Homo sapiens: one gene and its partners. The protein of the gene in region 1 interacts with the protein of each later gene in a pairwise test. Each region holds a gene or a part of one and is shown on either strand. Other genes may lie near its edges.

Evidence for each region.
Region 2: the proteins of HTT (region 1) and MKNK1 interact in binary tests that used the Homo sapiens proteins (3 or more experiments, as listed by UniProt).
Region 3: the proteins of HTT (region 1) and MGARP interact in binary tests that used the Homo sapiens proteins (3 or more experiments, as listed by UniProt).

The regions. Positions count from the first base shown.
Region 1 is NC_000004.12:3,126,567-3,130,217, reverse strand, and holds part of HTT (huntingtin), read right to left. Parts: intron 2,955-3,651; coding exon 2,614-2,954; intron 295-2,613; coding exon 171-294; intron 1-170.
Region 2 is NC_000001.11:46,559,119-46,562,769, forward strand, and holds part of MKNK1 (MAP kinase-interacting serine/threonine-protein kinase 1), read right to left. Parts: coding exon 3,531-3,651; intron 2,556-3,530; coding exon of another isoform or gene 2,525-2,555; coding exon 2,360-2,524; intron 1,160-2,359; coding exon 1,116-1,159; intron 694-1,115; exon of another isoform or gene 552-693; intron 1-551. UniProt on the Homo sapiens protein: May play a role in the response to environmental stress and cytokines. Appears to regulate translation by phosphorylating EIF4E, thus increasing the affinity of this protein for the 7-methylguanosine-containing mRNA cap.
Region 3 is NC_000004.12:139,270,197-139,273,847, forward strand, and holds part of MGARP (protein MGARP), read right to left. Parts: intron 1-3,651. UniProt on the Homo sapiens protein: Plays a role in the trafficking of mitochondria along microtubules. Regulates the kinesin-mediated axonal transport of mitochondria to nerve terminals along microtubules during hypoxia.

The DNA of each region.
Region 1 (3,651 bases):
AGATTTAGATCAAGAAAAAGTATGATTATTCCTCAATTGGTCATTTTCATCAGCTATTCAGAACTCAGAAAACAGTATCAAAGGACTTCTTCTTGGAAGCAAAGATATAATTAAGATGTCCAGGTCTGAATACAAACCACTTTGTAGCGCATCACCTGTAGTCCACATACCCATGGAAGAGTTCCTGAAGGCCTCCGAGGCTTCATCAGGAAGAATACCTGTGGCTTCCTCATCTTCATCCTGGGGCTGTCCAATCTGCAGGCCCAAATACTGGTTGTCGGTACCGTCTAACACCTAAACGGTTCAAGGGGGGCTGTGAGAATTTTGAAGTGTGATCACCAAGAGACAAGCCCTCCAACATGGAAGTGCAATGAGGAAAGAGCACATTTTACACACAGAACACAAATGTACTCATCTGTCATTTATTTCAAGGCACAGAAATGCACGCATGGAAACTGCTAAGAGCTTACTGATCACTCATTCCCACTACATTATGAAAAGCTCTATTAGCTCTAAAAACTCCAAAAAAATTCCAATGTGGACATTTCTTTTTAATATGAAAAAGAAAAAACCCATACAAAAATATTTGTCTTCACAAACAAATTTTACAGCAAGTTGGAAATATGAGGACAAAGCTTTTCGACAAAAACCTAACAATATAACAGGTTATCTCCTAAATTGCAAAGACTAAATCTACTAAATTTAGGGTATGGTATTTCATATGTTTAGCCATCAGCTTGGGGCATGATTCCACATCACAAGATGTTTCATGTCCACTTGAAATGTCCTGTGTAATTTACCTAAAAAAACTGAACAATGGACTACCAGCAAATTATTACCAAAATACTATTTTATTAAGTTTGTTAACTACTATACTATTAAGTAAAACACTCAATGATATGAATGTTTTAAATTAAAATTGGAATGTAAAAGCAACTCCATTTCTGGGTATTTAGCCAAAAAAATGGAAAGCAGAGTCTCCAGGAGCTATCTGTACACCCACGTTCATAACAGCATGATTCACAATGGCTAAAACATGAAGCAATACAAGTGTCCATGGACAGAGGAATGGAAAAGCAAAATGTGGCCTATCCATACAATGGAATAGTATTTGGCCTGAAACATTAGGAAGTTCTAACATAGGCTACAACATGCATGAGCTTTGGGGACATTATGCTAAGTAAAACAAATACTGTGTGACTCCTAAAGTATATGAGAACCCAAAGTAGTCAAATTCAGAAGACAGAAAGAAGAATCGTGGTTGCCAGGGACTTGGCGGGAAAGGAGGAATAGAGTTCAATGGGAACAGAGCTTCAGTGTTACATGATCAAAAGGTTACAGAGATGGGTGGTAGCAATGATTCCATGACATTATTTAAATGTATTTAATACCAGCGAACTGTATACGCAAAAAATGGTTAAGAACATAAATTTTATGTTACACATATTTAACCACAGTTTTTAAAACTGAAAATAAAATGGAGTATAAAACTCAACATGGACTTGTAGCAAACATTATTAGACTATCCATGAGGGTTTTTTGTCCACTAACTTAGAGATGAGAAGTGCTTAAACCTATGCCGCTATCAAATGGGAAATGTTGTAAAAGTTTTTTGAAAAGTCAAAAGTTCTTAAAATAATGCACAGTATTAATCACATTTCATTAAGACCACAGATCTGTTTATAATAGGCTCCTTAAGGATTTTTAAAAATAATTATTTAACCAGGGCCCAACAAGGCCTTAAAAAATGTAAAATGCACTCAATTTTAGCAGAGTTCATATAATCAACTATTCCAATTTTTTACCTCAGTGTTCAACACAAAAGACACTAAGTTGTTTCCTTCAGTGAAGGTATCAGATGAGGTCAAGCTCTCCATTAATGATCTAAGCTGCGCTGTCAATAGGGGTATTAGATAACAAGAGAACAAGCAGGAGGGTTCAGGTCTAGGTCTCCAGGGAAGAACTCAAAAGATGGCAGGTGGCAGGGCCGGGCATGGTGGCTCACAACTATAATCCCAATACTTTAGGAGGCCAAGGTGGGTGGATCATCTAAGGTCAGGAGTTTGAGACCAGCCTGGCCAACATGGTGAAACCCTGTCTCTACTGAAAATACAAACATTAGCTGAGTGTGGTGGTGCCCACCTGTAATCCCACCTACTCAGGAGGCTGAGGCGGGAGAATCGCTCGAGCCTGGGAGGCAGAAGTTGCAGTGGGCTGAGAACGAGCCACTGCACTTTATTTTTTTATTTTTTTTGAAATGGAGTCTTGCTCTGTTGCCCGGGCTGGAGTGCAGTGTCACGATCTCGGCTCATTGCAACCTCTGCCTCCCAGGCTCAAGCAATTCTCCTGCCTCAGCCTCCCTAACAGCTGGGACTACAGACATGTGCCACCACGCCCAACTAATTTTTGTATTTTTAGTAGAGACAGGGTTTCACCATGTTGGCCAGGCTGGTCTCGAACTCCTGACCTCAAGTGATCCGCCTGCCTCAGTCTCCCAAAGTGCTGGGATTACAGGCATGAGCCCCTGTGCCCGGCCTCCACTGCACTATGGAGTGAGACTCTGTCTCAAATAAAAAATAAAAAAAAAGATGTCAGGCCCCTCTGCCCACTTACAATTTCAGAACTGTCTGAAGGGGTAACAGCTGAATCAGGCCCTTCGGTGGTGGTCTGGGAGCTGTCGCTGATGGGCGACGAGGCCTGGGTCCCATCATTCAGGTCCATGGCAGGGTCAGATGGGACGGCGCTGACCTGGCTGGAGCTGTGGCTCAAGATATCCTCCTCATCCCCATCAGTGGCAGAGCTTGTCAAGTCACAGCTGGCCAGATCCACTGAGTCCGCCTGCAGTGTGTGCTGTGACCGTGGCTGTTCTGTGATGATGTCATGACCTGCTGACCCTGGAGTGGAAACCCCTGAAGAAGCAGCCAGCTCTCCACTGATCTCATCCTTCACTGAGGCTGAAGACAGAGAAACACTCATTTGTCAAATGGCGAGAGAAAACATTCAATAGGGAATCACAGGCTTGCAAAATAACGAACAGTTCCACCGTTATCAAATGTTTCAGCTGCACAGCATCCTGAAGATGCTGAAATGCAGGACAGCAGTGCATCCTTCAAGCATCTCTCACACTGCCTCCCACTACAGTACCCACCTTATAAAATAAGGCTTATCAGAAGGTGATATTCTCAAATGCTGTTTCACTGCAAAAACCGAAGTTCAAGTTCTTAACCGACTACTCCAAGCCTTAGCTGGAGCAATATATAAAGACATTTGTAATTAAGGGGCAGCCTAGTCAGGGGCGCAAAGCTAGGCGGTCACAGACACGCAGGCCCTCTAAGCAAGCAGTGGTCAGAAACAACTGTCAACTCATCTCTCTGGGGTGGGCTTGCCTTCTTCCAAGCCACATTCAAGATCTCGACTCCAGTCCTATTCTCCTGGAAGATAAACCTGTAACACATTTTCCTAGTTGACTTTCTAAATTACCATTTAAAAACAAAAAAGGCTATATAAAAATTATGGCAAAAAGGTCGACATGAAGCTGTTGGCAGTGGTCACTCCTGGGGCAGTTGGGTCGGTAAGCATGTGAGCTTTATAGTATCCGGATTGCTGTGATGTTTTATTGTTGTTTAATTTGTGTAATCAAAAAAAAATCTA
Region 2 (3,651 bases), on another chromosome or scaffold:
CACACCTGTCCCTCCCTCTCCCAGCCTGCGTGGGGAAAAAGCTCCCAGAGCAAGGCCTGCGCCGCTTATGCCACGTCCCCAGCACCTAGCTCAGGGCTAGCGTGGACAGGCACTTTGGGTTTGCAGAATAAATCTTCTAAGGCGGATCTGAGGTTTGGCATCTAAAGGCATCTGGAGGCTGCTCTAGAGAGTCAGGTAGGAACCCAAATTGGGCAATAGCAACTGGGTCACACGAATTGCGATTATGGAGGTGTATGACTTCCTTGTGTAGCTCCTAAAAGCTGGCCATGAGGCTGGTGCCAAAAAGGTTTCCCACACTGCTTAGCCCTGGCTCTTTGGGAACAGGGCAGTCCAGCTGTAAAAGGGCTCCAGAGTCAAACAGCCCAGGGCTGCTGTGTGGCCTTAAGCAAGTTAACTTGATTGCCACTCCTCACCTCTCTCATCTAGAACACCTCTCTTAAATTCATCGTGAAGATTATGGATATAATTATATCCAGCCCTTAGCACCACGTCTGACATGTGGTAAGGACTTACTATTTTTTTTGAGACAGATGCTTGCTCTGTTGCCCAGGATGGAGTGCAGTGGCGTGATCGCAGCTCACTGCAACCTCCGTCTGCTGGATTCAAGCGATTCTCCTGCCTCAGCCTCCCAAGTAGCTGGCATTACAGCACCTGCCACCATGCCTGGCCATGGTAAGGACTTAATCCTGGTGGCCACTATTATCACTGTCCGTCTAGTACCGTACGTGCCCCTCACTTCTGCTCCTTTCATTAAATACAAGGGCAGAGGGAAGCCTTGTGTGAATAACCCATGGGTAAGGTCTGTCTTTGGGCTGTAAGTTACAGTTCAATGGGCAAAACAGGTTTTTTTTCCTGCCAACAGTGCTAGGAGGGGCCTTAAGGTGCTGGAGGGCAGAGGATCCAATCTAGGTGAAGGAAGGGAAGGGTGGGAGATAGATCCAGAGTAGAGGAAAAGAGAGTGAGGAGGGGAAATGGGCAGGGAGCCCCTTTGGAGAAAGCTACCTGAGCCTAGAGATGGGCTCCCCCGGCCCCCACCCCCATGGTGGCTGAGAGCTTGAGGAAGAGCATGGCGTGGGGGTGGTCAGAGCATTTACCTCTGGAGGACTTGCGGCGTGGGGAGTCCCTTTTCTGGAGCTTGCTAGAATGGGAAGGACAGATGTGTAGGTAAAGCACTGCTCCCTCCTTTCAAGAACTGCCCCACCCAAGCCAGCAGTGGGTAGGTTACTATAGGCTGCTGGCGCAGCACAGGGAAATGGCTATGCTTGCTTGCAGGGTCAGGCCTTCCAAGCAGAGAGCAAGAAAGGTACAATCTGCAGCCGCAGCCCCCAACATAGCTGCTTCTGCATGGAGAGCCCCTCTTTCCCTTTGCCTGGCAAAGTCCTAATCATCCCCCAGGACCCAGCTCAAGGGTCACTTCCCCTGTGACGCACATTTCCCCTTCCCTGCCACCTTCCTGCCTCAGTCTCAGGCCCGGGATGGGGAGTGGGGTCTTGCTCCCTTTGTGCCCCTAGCACTTTTCAGAAGCCTTTATCATGCTGTAACTTATCCCCTTGTCTACTTCTCTCCACTAGAGCACAGAGACAGGGACTGGGTCTCACTTGTCCCTCTGGCATGTGGCAGGTGCTCACTTATGGGTCTGGGAATGAGCCAGTTAGACACTCAAACTGGGTCCCCATCTGCAACATAGGATGGCAATGCTTGCCTCCTTCCACTGGTAGGGTCACTGAGGCTGGCCAGAGCCTGGCACACCAAGGAGACCAGAAAGTCATGGGAGCATCTGGCAGACCCCTTGGAGGGCAGAGGTCAGGTATTGTGAGTAGCCAAGGAGGATTTTTAAAAATGTTTTCTAGTGAAGACATGAATTCTAAGCTTAGGGAAAAAATACGATCATTTGCCTTTCAGGCCAGCTGTACCCAGACTCCCAGACCATGAGGAGAACCTATGTGCCCCAACTCGGCCACACAACAATCAGCGCAGCACGGCCTTGCTCACTTCTGGGTGTCCTCAGCTAATGATGCTTCTATATAAGAGGAGGATGCTACAGACTTCAAATGACAATAGGATGCTTGCGGGGCTGGGTGCATGTACCAAATCCCCAGAGGACTCTGTTGGGGCTTAGTCTGTGGCCAAGTTTACAGCCAACTCTATGGCCTATAAGGGGCTCAGTCTGGGGTAACAGGAGGAGTCGATTCACTCTACACACTCAGGGATAGACGCTGTCCTCTTCAGCTGCACCAGCCACAAGGCTGGTGCTCAGCACTTGCTGGCATGACAGCTTCCTTGTGGCCATGCCACAGGCCTGAAGTGGTGGAAAACACCCCTCCCTGGAGTCACTCACCCCCTGCACCCATGGGTGCTGCAGAACTTGGGCGGCGCTAAGTCTCTGCTTTGCATCTCGCACCAGGAGCTTGGAGATGAGGTCTTTGGCTTCACTGGAGATGTGTGCCCAGTCCTTGTCAGGAAACTCATACTTGCCTTCCTGGATGCTTTCAAACAGCTTGTTCTAGGTACAAAAGATTCCTCCTGAGGCCACACTGCCAGGGATGGGCAGGATGTGCCTGTCATTGTTTTGATCAACCGGCTTCAATTGATCTCAGCTGTAGCTGCAGCTCATGGCTTGGGGATGCCACAGACTGGGGCCTCTTCCCAGACTCACCCCGCACTGTCCCCTAGATGATCAAACTATATAGAATGCCCTTGGCAGGCCAGGATGGCTATGCCCTTGGTGGGCTGGATGGGTGATGAGTGGAGATCACCCATAGAACAAAGCCCAAATTCCTTGGCTCTTCCTAGAGGACTCTCTGTGAACCTCTCAGGCCTCATCTCCCACTACCACCGACCTACTACTCCACTCTTCCTTCCTAGACACTCCAGCTATTTCATGTGCCCACATCTATGCCCGTGCTGTTCCTTCTACTTGTGATTCTTGTCCCTCTTCCGCAGGGCAGGATGCACCCTTTAAGAGTCAGTTCAGGGCTGGGCGCGGTGGCTCACGCCTGTAATCCCAGCACTTTGGGAGGCCGAGGCGGGAGGATCACAAGGTCAGGAGATTGAGACCATCCTGGCTAACACGATGAAACCCCGTCTCTACTGAAAATATAAAAAATTAGCCAGACGTGGTGGCCGGCGCCTGTAGTCCCAGCTACTTGGGAGGCCTAAGGCAGGAGAATCGCTTGAACCCAGGAGGCAGAGGTTGCAGTGAGTCGAGATCGTGCCATTGCACTCCAGCCTGGGCGACAGAGAGAGACTCCATCTCAAAAAAAAAAAAAAAAAAAAAAAAAGAGTCAGTTCAGGCATGATCTTCTAACAATCCTGCCCTGAACTCCCAGCTGGGCGGAGTGTCTGATTATCTCTATTTTACCTTGTGGCCACCGTGACAGGAGCGGGAGAGGGCACTATGAGCCCCCATCCCGATCAGGAACGCTCTCCCAGCCCAGTCCTGCTTGGCATCCCCCAACCACACTGACCCCTAGCAGGGTCTACGCAGTGCTCCCTGGGGCCGCACTCACCTGGCACACCCTGCAGACCTCGCCCCGGTCCCAGCCACAGTCGGCCCCGCAGTGACCCACGAAGGGTGGGTAGCCACTCAGCATGATGTAGAGGACCACGCCCAGGCTCCACAGGTCACAG
Region 3 (3,651 bases), about 140 Mb from region 1:
GGCTGAGGCAGGAGAATCACTTGAACCCTGTAGGCAGAGGTTGCAGTGAGCCGAGATCGCACCATTGCATTCCAGCCTGGGAAAGGAGGGAAACTCCGTCTCAAAAAAAAAAAAAAAAGAAAGAAAGAAAAGAAAAGAAAATCTGGGTCAAGCCTGTAATCGCAGCACTTTGGGAGGCCGAGGCAGGCGGATCATGAGGTCAGGAGATGGAGACCATCCTGGCTAACATGGTGAAACCCCATCTCTACAAAAAGTACAAAAAATTAGCCAGGAGTGGTGGCGGGCGCCTGTAGTCCCAACTACTCGGGAGGCTGAGGCAGGAGAATGGCGTGAACCCAGGAGGTGGAGCTTGCAGTGAGCAGAGATCGTACCACTGCACTCCAGCCTGGGCGACAGAGCGAGACCGCGTCTGAAAAAAAAAAAAAAAAAAAGAAAAGAAAATCTATAATGTCGGGTAGAAGTGATGTAAAGTGACCCTTTTATAGCAAACTTCCCGGGGTTTAGTGAACTCAGACTTGAATCATTTGGCTTTGAAACATACAGAGCAAATATGATCAACGGGAATGATAATCAACATTTTCTGTATAAAAGCAAGGAATATTTTCCGAGTAGGGTGTGTGTTCCTGACACCTTGTAGGACCAATATGATAAGTCAGTATCCCCAGTTCTCAGTACACAAACCGAACCAGTACACAAGTTCACATCCCTGAAAGGATCATTCCAGGAACAACATTCCAAGGGACATTAGTCTCATTGCTCAAGGGGCTAAAACACAAGGCAAGAAAAAAGACTAACTTTAGGGAGAATTGAAGAGATACAATACTAGAATAATTCACCCTAATGTGTGGCCCAAAGAATCTAGGTTTTCCAAATCCAGCACAGTCGAGCACAGAGTAGAATAAAGGCCTATTAAAAGAGAGGGTCTCAAATTTAGACTTTGGCAGTTATTTACAAATGATATTAAGTATTTATTAAGTATAAGCATTTAAAATATACTACAATTTTTATAAGCCAGTCTGGTACTACTTTTTAAGATATACCAGACCAGGCCGGGCATGGTGGCTCACATCTGTAATCTCAGCACTTTGGGAGGCCGAGGCGGGTGGATCACCTGAGGTCAGGAGTTCGAGACCAGCCTGGCCAACATGGTGAAACCTCATCTCTACTAAAAATACAAAAATTAGCCAGGCGTGGTGGCAGGCGCCTGTAATCCCAGCTGCTCAGGGGGCCGAGGCAGGAGAATCGCTTGAACCCGGGAGGCGGAGGTTGCAGTGAGATGAGATTGCGCCATCGCACTCCAGCCTGGGGGACAAGAGATACCCAGACCCTCAAAAAAACTGGAGTGATCTGGGCCTCTTTCAGATTCCAATGACCCCTAATAGTCGAGGATTTTGATTGCAAATGGAAAACTGCTTTTGGCTACTAAGCATCTGTGGGGTCAATTCATAAAAATCTAATATAGAGATTATTTTAGTACAGGACATGAAATGGAAGGGGAGAACAAGTATACAGGTTTTGGAGTGCCTTACATTCAGCATTTCCTCCTGAAAGTAGCCTAAGATTCCTGGCAATTAAGGCTTCCAACATTTGAGATTAAAATCACATAAACTTAGAAATGGAAGGGAACAACTTCCATCCCTACTGTGAGAGAACAAGGCCAGAAAGGGTTCTCAGGGATGGCTGGTTTATAAATGTATAACCTTTTAGTTTAAGATTCCTTTTGCAACCAGTGAGTTAGCAGTCTGGCAAAGTTTGTTTTTGGCACTGGTACATATTAATATAATCAGGGGTATAGTGATGTCCAAATGAAATTCATCCTTCTAGCTTCCCAGCCTATCACATGGCCTAGTCTCAATCTCTGTTTTTTTTTTTTGGTGGCCTACACCTCAACTAGAGTGGGTTTGAGCCATGAATTCAACATTAAACAGTAGAAAGATGACAGAACAAAGGAATCTGGGCACAAGTGAAAGCTGGCAGATTAGTAGAGGACAACAATATAAGTGACAAGTTTGCAGTTTCCTGACTCCTTGAGGCTCTCAAAATTCTGAAGATTATGACTAGCCTTAAAAAAATTTCTAGGCCGGGCTTGGTGGCTTATGCCTGTAATCCCAGCACTTTGGGAGGCCGAGGCAGGAAGATCACGAGGTCAGGAGATCAAGACCATACTGGCTAACACAGTGAAACCCCGTCTCTACTAAAAATACAAAAAAAAATTAGCTGGGCGTGGTAGTGGGCACCTGTAGTCCCAGCTACTCAGGAGGCTGAGGCAGGAGAATGGCGTGAACCCGGGAGGTGGAGCTTGCAGTGAGCCGAGATTGCATCACTGCACTCCAGCCTGGACGAGAGCGAGACTCTGTCCCCTCCCAAAAAAAAAAAAAAAAAAATTCTGAGGATTAGAATATGTATTTTGGTTTGGTTTGGTTTGGCCATCTTACATAGTCCTATGAAACTGCTTCTAGTTATGACTAAACATCTCTTTATTCATATTTCTTTTTTTTTTTTTTTTTTTGAGACGGAGTCTCACTCTGTCACCCAGGCTGAGTGCAGTGGTGCAATCTTGGCTCACTGCAACCTCCGCCTCCCCGGTTCAAGCAATTCTCTGCCTCAGCCTCCAGAGTAGCTGGGATTACAGGTGCCCGCCACCACGCCCGGCTAATTTTTGTATTTTTAGTAGAAATGGGGTTTCACCATTTCTTGACCAGGCTGGTCTTGAACTCCTGAACTCGTGATCCACCCACCTTGGCCTCCCAAAGTACTGGGTTTACAGGTGTGAGCCACCGGCCCGGCTTTATTCATATTTCCGTAGGTCCAAACCAAAATATAGTGACTGTGTACTCTTAGAGTTTACAAAGAATTTCTGCTTATTCTACTTTTATTCTTTACATTTTTTGTAGAGATGGGGTCCCGCTATGTTGGCCAGGCAGGTCTCAAACTCCTGCAAGCAATTCTCCTGCCTTGGCCTCCAACGTGCTGGGATTATAGGCGTAAGCCACCACTACAGGCTCTACTTTTATTCTTTTTTATTTATTATTATTTTTTTTGAGACAGGGTCTTGTTCTGTTGACCAGGCTTGAGTGCAGTGGTGCAATCTCAGCTCACTGCAGCCTTAACTTCCCAGGCTCAAGCGATCCTCCCATCAAAGCCTCCCAAGTACCTAGGACCACAGGCACACACCACCACGCTGGGCTAATTTTTTTATTTTTTATTGTAGAAATGAGGTCTCACTGTGTTCCCCAGACTGGTCTCAAACTCCCGGACTCAAGCCTCCCAAAGTGCTGGGATTACAGGCATGAGCCACCGCATTACTTTTATTCTTTTTTTTTTTTTTTTTTTTTTGAGACAGAGTCTGGCTCTCTCACCCAGCCTGGAGTGCAGTGGCACAATCTCAGCTCACTGCGACCTCCACCTCCTGGGTTCAAGTGATTCTCCTGCCTCAGCCTCCTGAGTAGCTATGATTACAGGCACCTGCCACCATGCCTGGCTCATTTTTGTATTTTAGCACAGATGAGGCTTCACCATGTTGGCCAGGCTGGTCTTGAACTCCTGACCTCAGGTGATCTGCCCACCTTGACCTCCCAAAGTGCTGAGATTACAGGCGTGAGCCACCATGACTGGCCTACTTTTATTCTTAATAAAGATTATATTTTGATT